Linked DNA regions of Homo sapiens: all the other regions are reported to be linked to region 4. Evidence: microRNA targets listed by miRTarBase, many of them from high-throughput screens and not tested one by one. Region 4 holds a microRNA gene; each other region holds the end of a gene's coding sequence.

Region 1 (5,184 bases), not on the chromosome of region 4:
AAACAAAAGATCCCTGGGAATTCACAGAAACCTTGGGGGTGATTACCAGACTTTCTGAAACATTTGGAAGGGGGAAGATGATGTAACTCCAGCCGATATCTGCATTACAATATATATTATTTCATTTTAATATTACAACAGAAAAGAAACAGAAGATCAGAAAGGTGAAGTGACTTGCCCAAGATTATTCAGCTAAATAGCAGTGCAGGAATCTTAAATCAGCTATTTCTGACTCCAGAAACCATATTTTTTCCAAGACCCAGCACAACTGAGGAGAAAACGTGGCAACAAGTGTGTACTCAGTTAGGTAATGGTTCAAAGAATTGAGCAAATGCTTCATAGAGAAAGTGACAGCTAATTTGGTATTTTGATATCAGATAATCTTATGGAGAGACCAAAGGCAGACCAGGAGAAAGGGGATTGAACAAAAAGTTTTAGGGTGAGGAGTTGTCCTGGGAACATAGAGTACATCAAGCTTCACTGGAGATTAGGGTGTGGAAGGAGTGTATTGGAAGATAAGGTCTGCAAAGGCCAGAATGTGGTTAAGGAATTTGGGCTTTATCATGAGAAAGTGGGGAGTATTAACCCACAGAATAATGTGGTCAGAACACATTTTTAGGAAGATCATTTGGGAAGCCAGGGTCAGGGTTACCAGATGGATTTGTTGTAGTAGGACCAGTCAAGGGTTCCCTCCAAAGCAACGTAGTATCTCTGAAACCCTGAAAGTGTGAGGTTAAACCCTGCCCTGATCAAAATGTTCACAAAACAGCCACTAGTTGGCAGGAATGTGCCAATGAATGGATGAGCCAGACTCCCAACTAGCAGCTTCTGTTCTCTCACTCCTTGAGCTGTGGTGGGGTGTGATCACCTAGTGGATAACAGGAGTAGGTGGGAGGGCAGTCTCTTCGGAGGAAACTTCAGAGGCCCAGAGGAGAAGGAGAACGTGATCAGAGAACAGAGTGGATGGATGGCTGGAGGATAGGGTTGGGGTTGAGTGGGGGCAGTGGTGAGGTCGAGAGCTTGATCATGAATGACTTGAATTTTCAGGTTAAGAAACACAGACATTATCCTGAGAGAAATGAGGAACCCAGGAAGGTTTTTAAGTAGGAGAGAGACATAACTAGATTTGAATTTTAGGAAGATCATCGATTGCAGTGTGGAGAATGAGGAGGAAGCAGGAAGCACAGAGATCAGTGAGAAGGCAGTTGCAGTGATCCTGGGAGAGGTGATGAGTGGCCAGCAGTAGGCCCAGCAATTGCAATGGACAGACGGACCAGAACTGTAGGAGACTTATGAAATAAAAATCACAGAATGAAAAAGGGGTCATTAAAAATGTAGTTGACAGAAAAGAATGATATCCTTTCCCTATTATTAAATACATCCTGAATTGTCAGATCGTCTACCTAAAATTGCACTGTAAGAATTCAGATTTCAGAACTTCTTGGCTTCTAAATTCTACTTCATTCATTCAATAATCCTGACCAGAGTCTGTGGTGGGAAGTGGGGACCAAGGAATGGCTCAGTCCTGTTCCTGCGGCAGCTGCCCTACCCCCCCAACCCCCGCCCTCGTCCCCGCCCCCGCCCCCAATGTGGTGGAAAGACACTCAATTCCGGTACAGCGTGGAGAGCGCTTTGATGGAGGAAATACAAGCCGATGTAGTGTTCCCGGGAAAACCTGATCCAGAAGGCTTCCAGGGAGAGGAGATTTTGCGCCTAAGATTTCAAATGAAAGATCTCATAACACTGTCAGTGAAACAACTAAGCACTGCTGGGAAAAGATGGTGGCCTGGAGAACAGTCCCGTTATCTATTTACCCCTTTTCGTCAGAAACCGTAGACGTCACCTTACGCGGGATAGGAACCCGGGTGAGCTACGTCCCCAGGGATGCCCAGCGATACACAAGTCACCGTCACCCCCTCCAGAGTAAACCGCATCGCCTGGCAAGCAGGCGCCCAGGTCGTCCCCAAGGGCCAGCGCCTGGAACCGCCAGGGTGTGATTGGTGGAGTCTTGGAGCCCGCCCCTCGTCGGGCCCAACAATGCGCCTCTGATTGGTGGAGAAACCACCTGGCCCCGCCCATCCCCAATCGTGTCCGTGCGCCGCCGGTGGCCCGGCTTAGGGGACCGCTGTGAGGTCTGGAGAGGATGCGCCATCGACCCCGGCAGTAGGCGGCCGAACCTTGGCCCCAAATCTTCTACCCCGGGGTGGATTGCGGCCCCTAGAGGAAAGGCGTCAGGGGACCGACCGGCAGCTGTGCCGTCGCGGCACTCTGGACCACGCTGAGGGCGGGCCGGCTTCCCTGCGCCTGCGCTGACATTTTGCAGTTTGGGAAATGGCGGTGCTCGGGGACGTCGATACTGACCCAGGGCGGGAGGCAGCTGCGAGTGGATTGTCGGGCCTTTTCAGACCGGGGTCTGAACCTCTGGGCCGGGGCGGGGCTCGGGTGCTGCCTGGCTCTGCCAACGTTCTGGGCCCTCGAGTGTGAATGAGCTCCGCCCGCCATCCGCCTTGTAGTCCTCGCGTCCGGCCACCGGCGCGGGGCTCCCACCCATCCCCACCCCACCCCACCCCACCCCACCCCGTCTGTTTCCTTTCTGGTCCAGTGGGGACAGCCCTGAGTGAGCAGCGTCGTAGGAGTAAGATACCTGGGCCCCCGGCCTCTCCTTCTTGCCCTGCCCCCGCACCCCCTCCCGCACGGGGACCCGGATAACTCCTTTCAACAGAAGTCTTTTGGGAGCACACGATAAGGCTTCCTTTCATCTGGCCTCAGCCCTTCACCAGTTAACCGCCCTGTCCCCAGGCTCAGGCAGGGCATATTCTTCGCAACCTGCTCTTCTTTGTTGAGATGCAGATGGATGTCCTCATAGATTCTTTATACCTAATGGTAATACATATAGGTATTTCCATTTGCTAAGTACCAGTTTTCCTTTCTCACACCCTTCTTACAACCCCTCTTCATGTCAGGGAGAAAAAAGCCTGCCTGTAGTTACAAAAGCAAACTTCTCCCAGATTTTGTCAGCTGAGCCTCTAGAGACAAATATCTTTGGTGTTTTATTTCCTCCAGTATTTTCTGAGTGCCTGCTGTGCATCAAGCACTGTACTGAATAGTGCTGAGGACCCACAGGAACCAAATCGGCATCTTCTCATGAAATTCAGACTAGTGGCAGAAAACTGGACTTGTGATGAAGGAGCAGATGAAGTGCTCTGGAAATTCAGGGGTGAAGGAGGAGGATGAGCTGTCTTTAGAGATGAAGCAGTAGTATACAGAGGAACCAGAGGGGGCAATTCCAAATGAAATGAACACAGGGCAGCTTGACAGCTCATTGGGCCCATACAAAGAACGTGGTTCATTTTGTGTGTGTGGGGAGGGGTGCAGGAGGTGGGTGGAGTTAATGGAGTAGTGGTTGTATGGTACCATTGTTAAAAGCAGGTGTTTTAGCTTATTCACTGTGCGACTTCAGGCACATAACCTCTTTGAGCCTGTCCAATAAAGGTACAGTATTTACTTCACATTCAAAATAATGCATTTCAAGCCTGAGCATCACGGCTGGCACAAAACTAGTGTTTTTTTGAACACCAACTATCAAATATGTGATAGAAATGCCTTGAATGTCAAGATAAAGAATGTATATATTCTCTGGGTAACAGGGATCAAACAGATTTTTGAGCAAGAGGACACTGATGAGAGGTACGTGTAAGGGACTGGATCCTGAGTCGAAGTCTAAGCCGTTGCAGTGGTTGCAACCCCACTTACTTCTGTCTCACTCCCATCCAAACCTCCTACCCTCAATCCACAAGCATTTCAAAACCATGTTTCTAAAAACCAGCCATTTATATCTGTTTAGGTAAGTAACAGGAGTGAGGTGGTGTATTTACAAGTTGGCTTGTCCAGATATACTATAACTTAGTGTCTGTATTTAATATTGACAACCAAAAATATATATAAATATCTTGCATCTATACACAACAGGGCAGGAGTCTCCATGTCTTCTTGAGCAGTGAGTTTGCAGGCTCCCACAGGCCCTCTTCTCATGGTAATAGTGTGGCCCTCAGTGCAAAGGAGACTAGAACCCGGCAGCCCAGACTGGCCCTTCCCCTCTCCTCCCTGCACTCCAGTGCTCCCAACTGGTCTCAGGTAAAGAAAGATTAATTTGAGTGGTTGGGTAGGAAGAGATGGGAAGGGGCAAATCCTAATGGAGCCTGACCCCTAGAGTGGGGAGATCCAGGCCAGCAGAACGGGTGGCCATAGCCACCTCCTGGGATAGAAGCTTTGTAGTTCATAGTTCGATTAGTGTGTCCTTAGGACATAGGTCCAGCCCTACAGATTAGCTGGGTGAAGAAGGCAAGTGTCTCGACAGGGCTTAGTCTCCACCCTCAGGCATGGAACCATTCAGGGTGAAGCCTGGGATGTGGGCACAGGAGACTCAGGCTGATATAAAAATAACAAAATCAGTAATAAAAAAATTATAAAACCTGTTGCTTGTCTGAATAGATTTGAGCAACAGTCTTGCTTTTGTTAAAATCCTGGAGCCGTTAAGTCCTGAATATTCTTCTGGACATCATTGCTGGCTGGAGAAAGGAGCCCCAGGCCCGGCTCGGCTGACATCTGTCAGGTTTGGAAGTCTCATCCAGCTGCCTGTGCTCCTGAGAGATCCTTAGGGCTGCTGGGAGCAGGCCGGGCTGGTGATCTGGGGCGACTCACACTTGGGAATCAGCCCCCAGGGGATGGAACAGCTCCTCGGGTGTCTTGTCACTTTGGCTGGCTCCCCCCTGCCGGAAGCCGGAAGCGATCTCATCGAAGGTCCGGCCTTTAGTCTCAGGAACTTTGAAGTAGGTGAAGATGAAGAACAGAACCAGGAGCACAGTGAAGATGATGAAGACGTAGGGACCACACAGTTGCTGAAAGACACACAGACACACTTGGTTGGAGTCATGACCCTACATCCTGGCTGTAGGACTTTGGATAAGTCACTTTACCTTTGGGCCTTTGAGCTGAAAAGGGAACATCCACCTACCCAGGGATGCTATCATAATTAACTGAGACCACGCTTGTACCTAGAATGTAACAGGCTCCAGGAGCACCATTCAAGGCTAAGGGGAGAACCCTGGAGTTGAGGTCAGCATTCTTGGTCATGTGACCTGGGCTTCCTACCCTCAGTTTCCTCCTCAGCATGATTCCTAATGA
Region 2 (5,194 bases), not on the chromosome of region 4:
CCTTCTGTCCCCACCCAGAGTCAGGAGTGGGGAGTAGCAGGCAGCCCCAACCTGCCCAGCCCCATCCCCATCACAGCACGCTGGCCCTGCCCCCCACGAGGCCACATCCTCCCAGTTCGCAGCCTGGGTTCCCTGTCCACAGGAAGAAGAACTTGGATTCAGAGAAAGGGCTGCAGAGCCCTTGACAGCTGACAAGCCCGCCACTTAAACACTACTCCCGGGATTTGGCGCTCACTATGTGTGTATTTTTCAAGACATAACTCACATACCTTCACAACCTTCACAGCTCAGTGGCTTAAATATATATATGTCACCCAGGGAGGTCAGTTCACAGCTAACTGGAGCCTCAAACTCCCAGGTTCAGTTAATCCTCCCACCTCAGCCTTCCCAGTAGCTGGAACCACAGGCACACAACACCATGCTCCGGCTAATTTTTAAAATTTATTTAATTAATTTTTTTTTAAGATGGAGTCTCCTTTGTTGTCCAGGCTGGAGTGCAGTGGCGTGATCTGGGCTCACTGCAACCTCCGCCTCCTGGGTTCAAGCGATTCTCCTGCCTCAGCCTCCCAAGTAGCTGGGATTACAGGCATGTGCCCCACGGCCAGCTAATTTTTGTATTTTTAGTAGGGACGGGGTTTCACCATGTTGGCTTGGCTGGTCTCAAATTCCTGATCTCAAGTGATCCACCCGCCTTGGCCTCCCAAAGTGCTGGGATTACAGGCATGTGCCACCGTGCCTGGCACCCCCGCCAATTTTTTTTTTGTTTTTTTTGAAACGGAGTTTTCACTCTTGTTGCCCAGGCTGGAGTACAATGGCTCGATCTTGGCTCACCGCAACCTCCACCTCCTGGGTTCAAGTGATTCTCCTGCCTCAGCCTCCTGAGTAGCTGGGATTACAGGCATGTGCCACCACACCTGTCTAATTTTGTATTTTTAGTAGAGATAGGGTTTCTCCACGTTGGTGAGGCTGGTCTCGAACTCCTGACCTCAGGTGATCCACCCACCTCAGCCTCCCAAAGCGCTGGGATTGCAGGTGTGAGCCACTGCGCCCGGCTGGCCAATTTTTAAAAATGTATTTTTTATAGAAACAGGATCTTGCTATGTTGCCCAGGCTGATCTCTAACTCCTGGGAGGATCAAGCAAATCTCCTGCCTTGGCCTCCTAAAGTATTGGGATTACAGGCGTGAGCCACCGTGCCTGGCTATTTTTTTTTTTTTTTGAGACATGGAGTCTCACCCTGTCGCCCAGGCTGGAGTGCAATGGCGTGATCTCTGCTCACTGCAACCTCCACCTCCTGGGTTCAAGCAATTCTTCTGCCTCAGCCTCCCTAGTAGCTGGGACTACAGGCACCTACCACCATGCCCAGCTAATTTTTGTATTTTTAGTAGAGATGAGGTTTCACCAACTTGGCCAGGCTGGTCTCGAACGCCTGACCTCGCGATCTACCTGCCTTGGCCTCCCAAAGTGCTGGGATTACAGGCATGAGCCACTGCGCCCAGCTGCTAATTTTTAAAAATATAGTTTTTGAGGCTGGGTGTAGTGACTTACGGCGGTAATCCCAGCACTTTGGGAGGCCGAGGTGGGCAGGTCACTTGAGGTCATGAGTTCGAGACCAGCCTGGCGAACATGGTGAAACCCTGTCTCGACTAAAATTACAAAAATTAGCCGGGTGTGGTGGAACGTGCTTGTAATCCCAAGTACTCGGGAGGCTGAGGCAGGAGAATGACTTGAACCCGGGAGGCGGAGGTTGCAGTGAGCTGAGATCGCACCACCGCACTACAGCGTGGATGACAGAGTGAGACTCTGTCTCAAAAAAAATATAATAAAAATATATTTCTTGTAGAGACAGGGTCTCACTGTGTTGCCCAGCCTGGTCTTGAACTCCTGGCTCAAGGGATCCTCCTGCCTCAGCCTCCCAAAGTGCCCAGATTACAGGCATGAGCCACAGCGCCCAACAGCTTTTAGTATATCAACAAGGTTGTGCAACCATCACCAATTCCAGAACCTTCTTACTTCCCCAAAACGAAACACTACACCCATTAAACGGTAACTCTCCATTCTCCCGTCCCCAGTGACGACTAAGCTACTTCTTGTTTCCATGGTTTTGCCCGTAATGGACATTTCATAGGATGCAGTCACACAACATGTGACCTTTTGTGTCTGGCTTTTGTTACTTTTTCAAGGTTCCTCCTCGACTGTGATTGCTTCATTCCTTTTCACAGTTGAGTAATATTCCATCCTGTGAACGTATCACACTTTCATTCATCAGTGGATGCAGAATTTGTTTTTTTCCACTGTGGGGCTACTGTAAATAATGCTGCCATGAGCATCCGTGCGCAGGCTTCTGTGGGCACATTTTCAATTCTCTTGAGAATGTACCTAGGAGTGGAACTGTGGTCATATGCTAATGCTGCTTTCTGAGGTTCTGTTTGCCAAAGTGGCTGCATTTTACATTCCCAGTAGCAGTGGATGAGGGTCCCATTTCTCGACATCCTCTCCAACACTGCTTTTTGTTTTAGTATAGCCATCGTAATGGGTGTAGTGTGGCATCTCATGGTTTTGTTTTTATATATATTTTTTGAGACGGAGTCTTGCTCTGTCGCCAGGCTGGAGTACAGTGGCGTGATCTCGGCTCACTGCAACCTCTGCCTTCCGGGTTCAAGCAATTCTCCTGCCTCAGCCTCCCAAGTTAGCTGGAATTGTAGGTGCACACCACCATGCCCAGCTAATTTTTGTATTTTTAGTAGAGGGGGTTTCACCACGTTGGCCAGGCTGGTCTCGAACTCCTGACCTTGTGATCCTCCCGCCTCAGCCTCCCAAAGTGCTGGGATGACAGGCCTGAGCCACTGTACCCGGCCAACACTGGGGTCTTCTAGAGAGACCTCACTACCCTTTTTACCCTGGACCAACTTACCATTAGGCACAGTGCCCTGGGCCCACACTATAAGAGCTGACATACATTTTTAATTTCTTTTAAAATCAGAAGGGAAAAAAATGAACCTTTAGGTGAGAGAAAATCCTCTAGTATACATTAATATATTCATCTTTATACCAACATGTTGTAAAATAGGTTTAACAGAGAAAGGGGCTCACCAAGGCCAAAGTGCCTCTGCTTTCCACAGCCATGAATGAGGTGGCCCTACCGTCCCCCTCTGGTCCCAGGCCCAAACTACTCCTCCCGGACAAGCAGCAAGATCTTGACTGGGGATATCTGATCCTCCTTCCAAGAGGAGGAAGAATTAGAACTTTGAGAATGGTGTCAGATCAACCCTGGCCTGGATTCCACCTACCTAGCCAAGCATTCAATCTGTCTCTTTTTATTATGATTTTACAGATGGGATCTTGCTCTGTTGCCCAGGCTGGAGTGCAGTGGTGCAATCATAGCTCACTGCAGCCTTGAGCTCCTGGGCTCAAGCGATCCTCCCGCCTCAGCCTCCCGACCGCTGGGACTACAGACAGGTGCCACCATGCCTGGCTTATTTATTTATTTTTTTGAGACGGAATCTCGCTCTGTGGCTCAGGCTGGAGTGCAGTGGCACGACCTTGGCTCACTGCAACCTCCACCTCCCAGGTTCGAATGATTCTCCTGCCTCAGCCTTCTGAGTAGCTGGGATTACAGCTGCATGCCACCACGCCTGGCTAATTTTCGTATTTTCAGTAGAGACGATGTTTTGCCATGTTGGCCAAGCTGGTCTCAAATTCCTGACCTCAGGTGATCCACCTGTCTCAGCCTCCCAAAAGTGCTAGGATTAGAGGCGTGAGCCACTGCACCTGGCCTAATTTTTTTTTTAGAGATGAGGTCTTGCAATTTTGCTCAGGCTGGTCTCAAATGTCTGGACTACAGTGAGCCTCCTGTCTCGACCTTCTGAGCAGCTGGGATAACAGGCATGCGTCACCATGCCTGGTTCAAGTCATTGCACCTTTGAACCTGTTTCCACATCAGTAAAACAGAGACAGCAGCTCCAATCCTAAGTGAATGGCATTTTGTGAACCACAACCCCAGGGCCACAAAGGTGACAGCTGGTGCTCTGGGGTGACAGCCTCTGGCATGGCAGGGAGATCAGTGTAGGGCATGTGGAGGCCGCACAGCCCAGTACCGTGGGCTCCTCCATGCCTGGCTGTGGCCTGTTCTTCAGTTATCAAATGGGAGCCGATGAGCCCATGGAACCCCCTCTTGCTCTGATGCAGGAAGTGGGGGGGGGCACACACACACACAAGTGCGCACACACGCATGCATGCACACACTCAGGACCTGCTGGCTTTGGCTATAGAGCATTTATTGCAAACAAAATTGAGGTAAAAGAAGCTGACCCAGAACCCACGCCCGTCCAGGCTGGGGAAGTCTCTACTCGCCCCACACCAGGCCCCGAGCACCGCGGGCCCGAAGCAGCCCCCAGAGGACAGACGGGCCCTGCGCACTGAGGTAGCTGCATCCTAAGCCCCCATGAGTACAACTGCCCAGGGCTGCCCAATTCCCAGAGGGGAGGAGGAGAGAGAGGCAGGCAGGGGGAGCCCCGGCTTCAGGTGGGGCACACCCCACACCCTCAACAAACCTCCCAGCCTCTCGGGCTGGGCACTTCCTGCCTGGCCACCCAGCCAGCCATGGGGCAGCGGGGTGGCCACCAGAGGCGGGCGTGCTGGGGTGCGAGGTCACTGCTGCTCCAGGCAGTCCTCGGTCACCCCCTGGGCAGCCAGCTCAGCCAGCACGTTCTGCAGGTAGTTGGGGTCGGGATAGCCGTGGCCCGTAATGTTGCGGTCCATCTCTGTCTTGTGGTGGATCTCGTTCCATACCACGGTGTCCGTCTCACCCGTGGTGCTGGACGTGCCCACTGTGAAGATGAGCCGCCTCTTCCAGGCCACCTTCAGGAGCTCTAGGACCTGCCCGGGGAGGAGGAGGGGGAAGAGGAAGGAGGGGACGGAGAGTGAGAGGGGCTCAGTGAGCAGGCACGGGTTGGCACCATGTTCTTCCCATCCCAGCCCCTCCCAGGTGACTCATCCACTCCCTGGCACTCACCCCATCTGCAGGGACCCCAAAACTGCCCACTGGATAGTACATTAGGATCCCACATGAACCTGGGCTCCAGCCCACCCCGCCTCAGTGCCTGGCACTGCCATCCGTTTGGTCCTGATGCCCAGGCACCATGCTCGAGTCCTCCCTGCTTCCACAGCCGTTGCTGGACGAGCGCCCGCCCACC
Region 3 (5,194 bases), not on the chromosome of region 4:
TTCTGACACATGGAGTTAATTTATTTTTAGCATCTCTTTCAAAGTATATGCTGATCGTCTTGTTTGTTTAAATAGCCAATTGCCTCATCCCACTTAACTCAGAGATGAGTTCCCATGGGCAGGGGCTGGGCTGTTTTGTTTACTGCTGTAGGACTGTGTGTAGCACACAGGTGTGTCATAAACGCTTGGACTTGTTCAGAGACTTGGAAATCATCTGTCATATGGGGCTTAAGGAAACTCAGCTTTTATGAATATACTTTCAAGGGGAAATTTAACTCAGCATTTTCATTTTTGCTTTGGAGATAATGATTAGCAGGAGGGTAAGATGGTGGTTCTGCAGGGTGCTGTTTTCTTAATGACCAATTACATCAGCCTGAGTCAGTTCGTTGTTTCTGACCTTTTAAAAGTGGTATTTTCAATAAGGTGGAATTATTTTGAGTTCTTCCTGTGTGGCAGTTTAGTTGGATTTGAAAGATGGATGAATCTTGGGTAGAAGTGTGCAGAGGGAAGCAGTGTGAGCAGAGTGGGAAAGTGTGAGGAGAGCCGTGAGGAGTGTGGTGTTGGTGGAGAGGGGAGGAAGACATCTTGTGGGGAAGGTCGGGCGGGTTAGAGCATAGACTTCCTCCAGAGGCCAGGAGACCATCGGAGGCCAGGAGATCATCGGCGAGTGTGGCAGGGAAAGGGCCTGTTGAACTGACTTTCCCACTTGCCTTTTCGTTGAGAAGGAGAGTAAAGGCCACGCCTGTCCCATGGCTGTTTTTAAGTCTCGAGTGTGGAGATTGTTGGTCGTGGAGGGAGGGGTGTTGCCTCTGCCTGAATCCCTGGGGTCTCACTGTATTCACTTTTTTCTCTCCTTTCAGAATATTCCCCAAAGCACTGAGATACTAAAGAAATTGATGACAACAAATGAGATTCAGAGTAACATTTATACATGATCTTAAACATTGTTTTGTAGTGTATATTACTTGTCCATTCCTTTAAGGGGAGCAGCCTGCACTCTTTTGTAGATTACTTTTGGGGGATATATTTTGAGAATGATGAAACGGAATAAAATTGTAAAAAATTAATTGTAGTTTTAATTCCTTATTTATGGTGGTATTATTCACAACCAAAATAAGCCAAGCATTTTCCTTTTATCCACTAGGTGGGAGTATTGTTGTATTTGAATATTTTAAGGTACTATAGTTAAATTTTTATCTTATTTATTTATTTATTTATTTTTTGAGGCTGGGTCTTGCTCTGTTGCCCAGGCTGAAGTGCAGTGTGCTATCATGGTTCACTGCATCCTCGACCTCCTGGGCTCAAGCATTTCCCCCGCCTCGGCCTCCCAAAATGCTGGGATTACAGGTGTGAGCCACTGTGCCCAACTTTAGTTAAATTTTTCAAAGCTACAGATATCAGCAGATGGTATTCATGTGGCAAAGTGTAGTTAATTAGGTGTAACTATTCATTGACCTGTTGGTGATTCTTAATATGTGGAAAGTTTCTGGATATTTTAGGAGTCCTGCAGTTTTTTTTATCTTGTGGGTAAAAATTGATGACAAAGTAACAAAATTATATATTTACTAAAAATGAAACAGAAATGTGTATGTCCTCACTTTTTAGTAATATCTGACAGATAGCCTCTTCACCCAGACTTTCCCAGGGCTCTCTTTCAAGGCTGGCTCTGCGCGTGTCAGCAGTTCTCTTACAGTCATGTGTTATCATTAGGAGTGTGAATGGAATCATGAACCCGGAGTAGCCACACAACTTCACAGGACCACAAACTGAACTGCATTCATGAAAATAAATTTTAAAATGGTGGAGTTAAATGCTTCTTATCTCTTCTGCTTTCTTTTTCACCTTTTTAGTTATTGAATCATTTACATACTATAGATTTAGAGTACTTACCCATTTATATTTTCTAGTTCCAGTTCATTTACTGTTTTTGGTAATGATTAGAAGTATGGTAAGGAGATACTGTGTTCTAACTCCTTCTTGAGTAAACTTGGTTTCCTTTACATAATCAAGAATTGGAAGTCTTGTGCATAGTATGCTTATGAATATATCCCGAAGGCAGAAATCTAAGCATTTCCCTTGTTGCAAAAAAAGTTTTCATTCATTCAGAAATGTGCCTGCAGAGCCCTGAGGTAACATCATATGACCTGGAATCTGGTCCTAGCTGGAGCTAATCCTCTTCTTGTGCTGAGGGTCAGTGTGGTAAGTAAGGAAGAGTGATCTTGGAAAAGCAGACTATGTTCAATCCCAGGCCAGCCCTTACAGGCCAGGTGACTTTGGGCAGATGCCTTGAAGCTTCCTGAGCAACAGTTTTCTCAGCTGTAAACTACAGATAATACTGGTGACAGTACTCCCTGGGTGGTTATCTACTTCCCTTGGGGTCCAGGTTTTCATCTGCTTAATGAAGGAAATTCTCTGCTTGCTTTGCTGAATTGTGAGAATAATGATATAAGAATGCTTTTGAAGAACTGTAAGGTGGTATTTCCATGTTGACACACCTTTGTGTGCCCCACCTCAAAGATGCTGACGGTGATGTGGTAAGAAAGGAGTGGGGAGCTGCTCTGGGGGCAGCTGGAGCTGTCAGTCTTCATTCCTTCTTGTACTTCCTCTTGCTAACTTGAGAACCACAGAGCTTGGCAGTGTCAAATGGCTAAGAGTGGAAGTAGTTGGGGGACAAGTTTTGCATCGGCAGTAATCCTGGGAGAACCCTAGAAGCAGATAACTCTGGGCATTGTAGTTTTTAATAATTTTGGTAAGGAAAGAATCATAATTGCTTCAGACTGTCCAGGAGTAAACCTCTTCTTGTGATAAGAAGCAGGCAGCAGGTGCAGGAGGTTGGCTGTCAGTGCAGCAGAGCCACGTTAGGGCCAGATACCAAGCCAGGCACAGCGGTGCTTATCCGTAGTCCCAGCTACCTGGGATGCTGGGGCAGGAGGATCGCTTGAGCCCAGGAGTTCGAGTCTAGCCGGAGCAGACATCAGGCCTGGGTAGGTTTCCCATTCAAAGGAGAGTAGCTGAAGAAAACAAGCAATACGAAGGATAGAAACAGCATTAAAAATGCAGAAGAAGAGCATTCTGTTGAAAAACATGACTGTAGGAAACAGCTATTTTTTAAAAGTCAGGAACCCCTGCTTTTTCCAAAAGCAAATAATGAGATGTATGAGAAGCAGCAGCTAGCTGAAAGGAAATTTAAAAAATTTCATGGAAAAGATTTTAACAGAAGCAAAACTTCAACTTTAAAATCTGTATTATATAAAATAACAACAAATAGTATGTGATCTAAGTTGTATATATATTACATATATATAAAATAGGGTATAATACAAAGCCATTATGTGGAGGACTAACTTGAGTTGGTGTCCTAAGATGCAGGACAGAAATAGAGAAGTAACAGATGACACAGACAAGACAGTATATGCCCAGTATATTAGAGCAGTCCAGAGAGAACCAGTAGGATGTGTATAGTCATGCACCACATAAGGACATACCACTGGCGGACCGCATGTAGACAGGGGTCCATAAGATCGTATGGAACTGAAAAATTCCTATCGCCTAGGCTGTGGTAGCCATCCTAAGGTCAGACCTCATGTGTTACTTGTGTTTGTGGTGTTGCTGGTGAAAACACGCCTACTGTGCTGCCAGTTTAAAGGTCCAGCACATACAACTATGAACAGTACATAATACTTACAATAAATGACTATGCTACTGGTTTATGTACATCCTATTTTTTGCTATTTTAGAGTGTATTCCTTCTACTCGTAACAAAAAAGCGAACTGTAAAACAGTCTCAGGCAGGCCCTTCCAGAGGTATCCAGAAGCAGACATTGTCATCACAGGAGATGACAGTTCCATGTGTGTTACTGTCCCTGAAGACCTTCTAGCGGGACAAGATATGGAGGCGGAAGACAGTGAGATATTGATGATTCTGACCCTGTGTAGGCCTAGGCTAATGTGTGTGCTGTGTCTCAGTTTTTAACAAAAAGCAAAAAACAAAACTTTTGAATGGAAAAAAGCTTATGGAATAAGGATATAAAGAAAAAATATTTCTGTACAGCTGTACAGTGTATTTGTGTTTTAAGCTAAGTTATTAGAAAAGAGTCAAAAAGTTAAAAAAATAAAAGTTTAGAAAGCAGAAAAGTTACAGGAAGCTGAGATTGACACCAGCAGAGGCAGCAGCCTGAGCAGCTACAGGCTGTGCTCTCTCCCACCTGCCCTGAGGTCTCTCCCTTCTTTCTCTTCCTCCACCACCTTTTCTCCTCCTTCTCGTTGCCTTTCTGCCCACCCCTGTTGTTCCACCCCTGCCCCACCCTGCCTGCTCTCCTTTTTCCCTGAGTTGCCTCCTGCCTGGAGTTCTTGGTTTTCATCCCCACTGGCCAAAGACTTGACCACTCCAAGTCCAGCTCCCCATAGCCCTGCTTGATATGGACACTGGTATGATTGAAATTGGATTAAATGTCATTCTCACCACCTGGCTACTTATGCATGGAAAGGAAGTTGGCAGTATCATCAGAAAGAGGAGAATCAGTTAAGATGCATGAGGAGAGTGGTGCATGTATCAGCATCTCAGAAGGGAGTTGTTCTGAGAGAATTATCATCTTGGCTGGACCCACTAGCGCCATCTTCAAAGCAAGATTGGAAGAGGATATCAGTAGCTCTGTGACCACTAGCACAGCTGCCAGTGGACCCCCTGGTCACCCTGATGCTGGTGGTCCCTGCTAGTCACTGTGGCTCATTGGAAAAGGTGGTTGCAAGATCAAGGCAATACGAGAGAGTACAGGGCTCAGGTCCAGGTGGCAGGGGATATGCTCCCCAACGCTGCTGACTGAGCCATCACTATCGCTGGGATTCCGCAGTCCATCATTGAGTGTGTTGGACAGGTCTGTGTGGTGTTGGAGTCTTCCCCCAAACGCATGGCCATCCCATACTGGTCCAAGCTGTCCAATTCTCCGGTGATCTTTGCAGGTGATCAGGACAGGTACAGCACAGGCAGCGACAGTGTGAGCTTGCTTTCTCCACACCACTTCGTCCATGTGCCTCAACTGTGACCTGGAGGGACCACTTCTAGAGTTGACCAAGCTGCACCAGTTGACAATGCAACAATCTAGTTTTCCTACAGTAGATAGCAACGCTGGGGTTCAGTGCAGGTTTGGATGCATCTGCTCAGACCACTTCTCATAAACACCATTCCAAATGATAC
Region 4 (5,000 bases):
GCGTGTGACTGATGCTGTGGCAGGTCTGAGGAGCTCTGGCCATGGATGGCCCACGTGCTGCTGCCCTACGTCCACGGGAACCAGTCCAGCCCAGAGCTGGGGCCCCCACGGCTGCGGCAGGTGCGGCTGCAGGAAGGTGAGCTGGCAGGGCGTGCCCCAAGACTTAAATCGTTCCTCTTGTTGAGAGAGCAGCCTTTAGCGGAGCTCTGGCATCAGCCCTGCTCCCTAGCTGTGTGACCTTTGCCCTCTTAACACCGCCGTTTCCTTCTCTGTATATGAGAGATGGTAACGTTGTCTAATTGATGGCTGCTGGGAGGGTTCCCTGGGGTGGCGCCGAACCAGAGCTCAGGCGAGCTGGCCAGCAGGAAACACTCCTGTTGGGTTTTGATGAGGCCCTGGCCCCGGCCTGGGGCTCTGTGTGTTTCAGCACTCTACCCAGACCCTCCCGGCCCCAGGGTCCACACGTGCTCGGCCGCAGGAGGCTTCAGCACCAGCGATTACGACGTTGGCTGGGAGAGTCCTCACAATGGCTCGGGGACGTGGGCCTATTCAGCGCCGGATCTGCTGGGGTGAGCAGAGCGAGGGCCCCGGGCGTCTACGCCAAGGACAAGGGAGTAGTTCTCCAGGAGTGCCGCGGCCTCCTGACCAGCCTGGCTCCGGGGTGCCGGAAGGGCTGGGGTGCGGCACCCACGCCACCCCTCTCCGGCAGGGCATGGTCCTGGGGCTCCTGTGCCGTGTATGACAGCGGGGGCTACGTGCAGGAGCTGGGCCTGAGCCTGGAGGAGAGCCGCGACCGGCTGCGCTTCCTGCAGCTGCACAACTGGCTGGACAACAGGTGGGAGCTCCCTCCCCTGCCCTCTCCGGGGTGGCCGCAGTCACCAGCCAGGAGCCCACCCTCACTCCTCCGGCCCCCGCTGGCCTAGGCGGCTTCCACAGCCCCTCAGCCACGCCTGCACTGCGCGGTCCCCGCAGCTCCCGCCCTGCCACCCGCTCCTACTGACCCGCACCCTCTGCGCAGGAGCCGCGCTGTGTTCCTGGAGCTCACGCGCTACAGCCCGGCCGTGGGGCTGCACGCCGCCGTCACGCTGCGCCTCGAGTTCCCGGCGGCCGGCCGCGCCCTGGCCGCCCTCAGCGTCCGCCCCTTTGCGCTGCGCCGCCTCAGCGCGGGCCTCTCGCTGCCTCTGCTCACCTCGGTACGCCCGTCCCCGGCCAGACCCCGCGCCTCCCACCGGCAGCGTCCCGCCCCCTCGCGGGGCCCCGCCCCGGCAGCGTCTCACCCCTCGCAGCGCCCCGCCCCCTCGCAGCGTCCCGCCCCCTCGCAGGGCCCCGCCCCGGCAGCGTCCCGCCCCCTCGTAGGGCCCCGCCCCGGCAGCGTCCCGCCCCCTCGCAGGGCCCCGCCCCGGCAGCGTCCCTCCCGCCCTCCTGACCGCGCCCCCCACAGGTGTGCCTGCTGCTGTTCGCCGTGCACTTCGCCGTGGCCGAGGCCCGTACTTGGCACAGGGAAGGGCGCTGGCGCGTGCTGCGGCTCGGAGCCTGGGCGCGGTGGCTGCTGGTGGCGCTGACGGCGGCCACGGCACTGGTACGCCTCGCCCAGCTGGGTGCCGCTGACCGCCAGTGGACCCGTTTCGTGCGCGGCCGCCCGCGCCGCTTCACTAGCTTCGACCAGGTGGCGCAGCTGAGCTCCGCAGCCCGTGGCCTGGCGGCCTCGCTGCTCTTCCTGCTTTTGGTCAAGGTGAGGGCTGGGCCGGTGGGCGCGGGGCTGGGCGCACACCCCAGGGCTGCAAGCAGACAGATTTCTCGTCCGCAGGCTGCCCAGCAGCTACGCTTCGTGCGCCAGTGGTCCGTCTTTGGCAAGACATTATGCCGAGCTCTGCCAGAGCTCCTGGGGGTCACCTTGGGCCTGGTGGTGCTCGGGGTAGCCTACGCCCAGCTGGCCATCCTGGTAGGTGACTGCGCGGCCGGGGAGGGCGTCTTAGCTCAGCTCAGCTCAGCTGTACGCCCTCACTGGTGTCGCCTTCCCCGCAGCTCGTGTCTTCCTGTGTGGACTCCCTCTGGAGCGTGGCCCAGGCCCTGTTGGTGCTGTGCCCTGGGACTGGGCTCTCTACCCTGTGTCCTGCCGAGTCCTGGCACCTGTCACCCCTGCTGTGTGTGGGGCTCTGGGCACTGCGGCTGTGGGGCGCCCTACGGCTGGGGGCTGTTATTCTCCGCTGGCGCTACCACGCCTTGCGTGGAGAGCTGTACCGGCCGGCCTGGGAGCCCCAGGACTACGAGATGGTGGAGTTGTTCCTGCGCAGGCTGCGCCTCTGGATGGGCCTCAGCAAGGTCAAGGAGGTGGGTACGGCCCAGTGGGGGGGAGAGGGACACGCCCTGGGCTCTGCCCAGGGTGCAGCCGGACTGACTGAGCCCCTGTGCCGCCCCCAGTTCCGCCACAAAGTCCGCTTTGAAGGGATGGAGCCGCTGCCCTCTCGCTCCTCCAGGGGCTCCAAGGTATCCCCGGATGTGCCCCCACCCAGCGCTGGCTCCGATGCCTCGCACCCCTCCACCTCCTCCAGCCAGCTGGATGGGCTGAGCGTGAGCCTGGGCCGGCTGGGGACAAGGTGTGAGCCTGAGCCCTCCCGCCTCCAAGCCGTGTTCGAGGCCCTGCTCACCCAGTTTGACCGACTCAACCAGGCCACAGAGGACGTCTACCAGCTGGAGCAGCAGCTGCACAGCCTGCAAGGCCGCAGGAGCAGCCGGGCGCCCGCCGGATCTTCCCGTGGCCCATCCCCGGGCCTGCGGCCAGCACTGCCCAGCCGCCTTGCCCGGGCCAGTCGGGGTGTGGACCTGGCCACTGGCCCCAGCAGGACACCCCTTCGGGCCAAGAACAAGGTCCACCCCAGCAGCACTTAGTCCTCCTTCCTGGCGGGGGTGGGCCGTGGAGTCGGAGTGGACACCGCTCAGTATTACTTTCTGCCGCTGTCAAGGCCGAGGGCCAGGCAGAATGGCTGCACGTAGGTTCCCCAGAGAGCAGGCAGGGGCATCTGTCTGTCTGTGGGCTTCAGCACTTTAAAGAGGCTGTGTGGCCAACCAGGACCCAGGGTCCCCTCCCCAGCTCCCTTGGGAAGGACACAGCAGTATTGGACGGTTTCTAGCCTCTGAGATGCTAATTTATTTCCCCGAGTCCTCAGGTACAGCGGGCTGTGCCCGGCCCCACCCCCTGGGCAGATGTCCCCCACTGCTAAGGCTGCTGGCTTCAGGGAGGGTTAGCCTGCACCGCCGCCACCCTGCCCCTAAGTTATTACCTCTCCAGTTCCTACCGTACTCCCTGCACCGTCTCACTGTGTGTCTCGTGTCAGTAATTTATATGGTGTTAAAATGTGTATATTTTTGTATGTCACTATTTTCACTAGGGCTGAGGGGCCTGCGCCCAGAGCTGGCCTCCCCCAACACCTGCTGCGCTTGGTAGGTGTGGTGGCGTTATGGCAGCCCGGCTGCTGCTTGGATGCGAGCTTGGCCTTGGGCCGGTGCTGGGGGCACAGCTGTCTGCCAGGCACTCTCATCACCCCAGAGGCCTTGTCATCCTCCCTTGCCCCAGGCCAGGTAGCAAGAGAGCAGCGCCCAGGCCTGCTGGCATCAGGTCTGGGCAAGTAGCAGGACTAGGCATGTCAGAGGACCCCAGGGTGGTTAGAGGAAAAGACTCCTCCTGGGGGCTGGCTCCCAGGGTGGAGGAAGGTGACTGTGTGTGTGTGTGTGTGCGCGCGCGCACGCGCGAGTGTGCTGTATGGCCCAGGCAGCCTCAAGGCCCTCGGAGCTGGCTGTGCCTGCTTCTGTGTACCACTTCTGTGGGCATGGCCGCTTCTAGAGCCTCGACACCCCCCCAACCCCCGCACCAAGCAGACAAAGTCAATAAAAGAGCTGTCTGACTGCAATCTGTGCCTCTATGTCTGTGCACTGGGGTCAGGACTTTATTTATTTCACTGACAGGCAATACCGTCCAAGGCCAGTGCAGGAGGGAGGGCCCCGGCCTCACACAAACTCGGTGAAGTCCTCCACCGAGGAGATGAGGCGCTTCCGCTGGCCCACCTCATAGCCAGGTGTGGGCTCGGCTGGAGTCTGTGCAGGGGCTTTGCTATGGGACGGAGGGTGCACCAGAGGTAGGCTGGGGTTGGAGTAGGCGGCTTCCTCGCAGATCTGAAGGCAGAGGCGGCTTGGGCAGTAAGTCTGGGAGGCGTGGCAACCGCTCTGCCCACACACCCGCCCCACAGCTTGGGCAGCCAGCACACCCCGCTGAGGGAGCCCCATATTCCCTACCCGCTGGCGGAGCCGCTTGATGTGGCGGAGCCGGGCAATCCACTTGGAGGGGTAGATATCGGTGGGGTTGGAGCGGCTATGATGCACCTGTGAGGCCATCTGGGGACGTAGGCAGGGGGTGAGCTCACTATCAGGTGGCACCTGGGCCTGTCCCACCAGCTCACGCCTGGACCCACCCCCACTCACATTTGCGTGCAGGGCCATCTGGCGGGCCACGAAGGGCAGGTTGCGGTCAGACACGATCTTGGCCACGCTGGTGTCCACAAGGCCCTCCATGTCTGGGGAGACTTGGTGGTCACGCCAGGCCCAGGGCTCTTGGCGCCACACTGCAGGGCCCCACCCGGCCCTACCTTTCCTGCACTGCAGGGCCCCACCCGGCCCTACCTTTCCTGCACTGCAGGGACACCAGGTTGCACTCGTAGTCCAGCGGGGTGACGATCACGTGGACAAAGTTGAACTGGCCCTGCCCGGACAAGAGAAAGGGTCATCCCCGCACACAGCGTGTGCTGAAGGCTGATCTCGGCTACTGCCTGGTTGCACTGCTAGACACCTGTCAGCTCCATGGGCAGCATCTGCCCCTGAACTTTCCCCTCTGGCAGCGGGGCTGTGTTTGTCTGGCCTCCCCCAGGCCAAGCCCCCTCCACATCTGGGCGCAGCACCCACATATGCTGCAGCCACAGGCAAGACACCTCTAATTGCTGGGGCACCTC

The links. Region 4 holds the annotated microRNA hsa-miR-1225-3p (UGAGCCCCUGUGCCGCCCCCAG, at 2,400-2,421, shown strand). A microRNA usually pairs through its seed, bases 2 to 8, with sites in the 3' UTR of a target mRNA and lowers its output. Matches are read on the target gene's strand: a 7mer-m8 pairs with bases 2 to 8, a 7mer-A1 pairs with bases 2 to 7 and ends in A, and an 8mer does both.
Region 1: miRTarBase lists SLC2A1 as a target of hsa-miR-1225-3p. Seed matches in the 3' UTR shown: 7mer-m8 at 4,579-4,585.
Region 2: miRTarBase lists DTX2 as a target of hsa-miR-1225-3p. Seed matches in the 3' UTR shown: 7mer-m8 at 4,509-4,515.
Region 3: the mRNA of PSMG1 is a reported target of hsa-miR-1225-3p. Seed matches in the 3' UTR shown: 7mer-A1 at 1,298-1,304.

Annotation. Positions count from the first base shown.
Region 1 is chr1:42,922,344-42,927,527 of GRCh38, forward strand. It overlaps SLC2A1 (solute carrier family 2 member 1), which reads right to left. Exons shown (of 10, transcript NM_006516.4): 10 at 3,010-4,898. The coding sequence ends at 4,698. Among named protein-coding and RNA genes, the nearest start is that of SLC2A1, 34 kb to the right of the region's middle. RefSeq lists enhancers at 924-1,043, 1,700-1,829, 2,250-2,339, 4,711-5,184.
Region 2 is chr7:76,505,057-76,510,250 of GRCh38, reverse strand. It overlaps DTX2 (deltex E3 ubiquitin ligase 2), which reads right to left. Exons shown (of 11, transcript NM_001102594.3): 11 at 4,260-4,877. The coding sequence ends at 4,650. LOC124901675 (a long non-coding RNA gene) reads left to right here. Exons shown (of 2, transcript XR_007060388.1): 2 at 143-2,070. Among named protein-coding and RNA genes, the nearest start is that of UPK3B, 2.9 kb to the left of the region's middle. RefSeq lists an enhancer at 1-234 and a silencer at 1,112-1,317.
Region 3 is chr21:39,171,331-39,176,524 of GRCh38, reverse strand. It overlaps PSMG1 (proteasome assembly chaperone 1), which reads left to right. Exons shown (of 7, transcript NM_003720.4): 7 at 861-1,756. The coding sequence ends at 935. It also overlaps the pseudogene PCBP2P1. Among named protein-coding and RNA genes, the nearest start is that of PSMG1, 9.5 kb to the left of the region's middle.
Region 4 is chr16:2,087,616-2,092,615 of GRCh38, reverse strand. MIR1225 (microRNA 1225) reads left to right here and starts at 2,332; the gene lies at 2,332-2,421. It overlaps TSC2 (TSC complex subunit 2), which reads right to left. Exons shown (of 42, transcript NM_000548.5): 39 at 4,675-4,753; 40 at 4,477-4,568; 41 at 4,291-4,389; 42 at 3,125-4,170. The coding sequence ends at 4,006. PKD1 (polycystin 1, transient receptor potential channel interacting) reads left to right here. Exons shown (of 46, transcript NM_001009944.3): 39 at 24-136; 40 at 428-569; 41 at 710-835; 42 at 1,019-1,193; 43 at 1,442-1,732; 44 at 1,808-1,942; 45 at 2,026-2,331; 46 at 2,422-3,908. The coding sequence ends at 2,889. PKD1-AS1 (PKD1 antisense RNA 1) reads right to left here and starts at 1,180. Exons shown (of 3, transcript NR_135175.1): 1 at 1,002-1,180.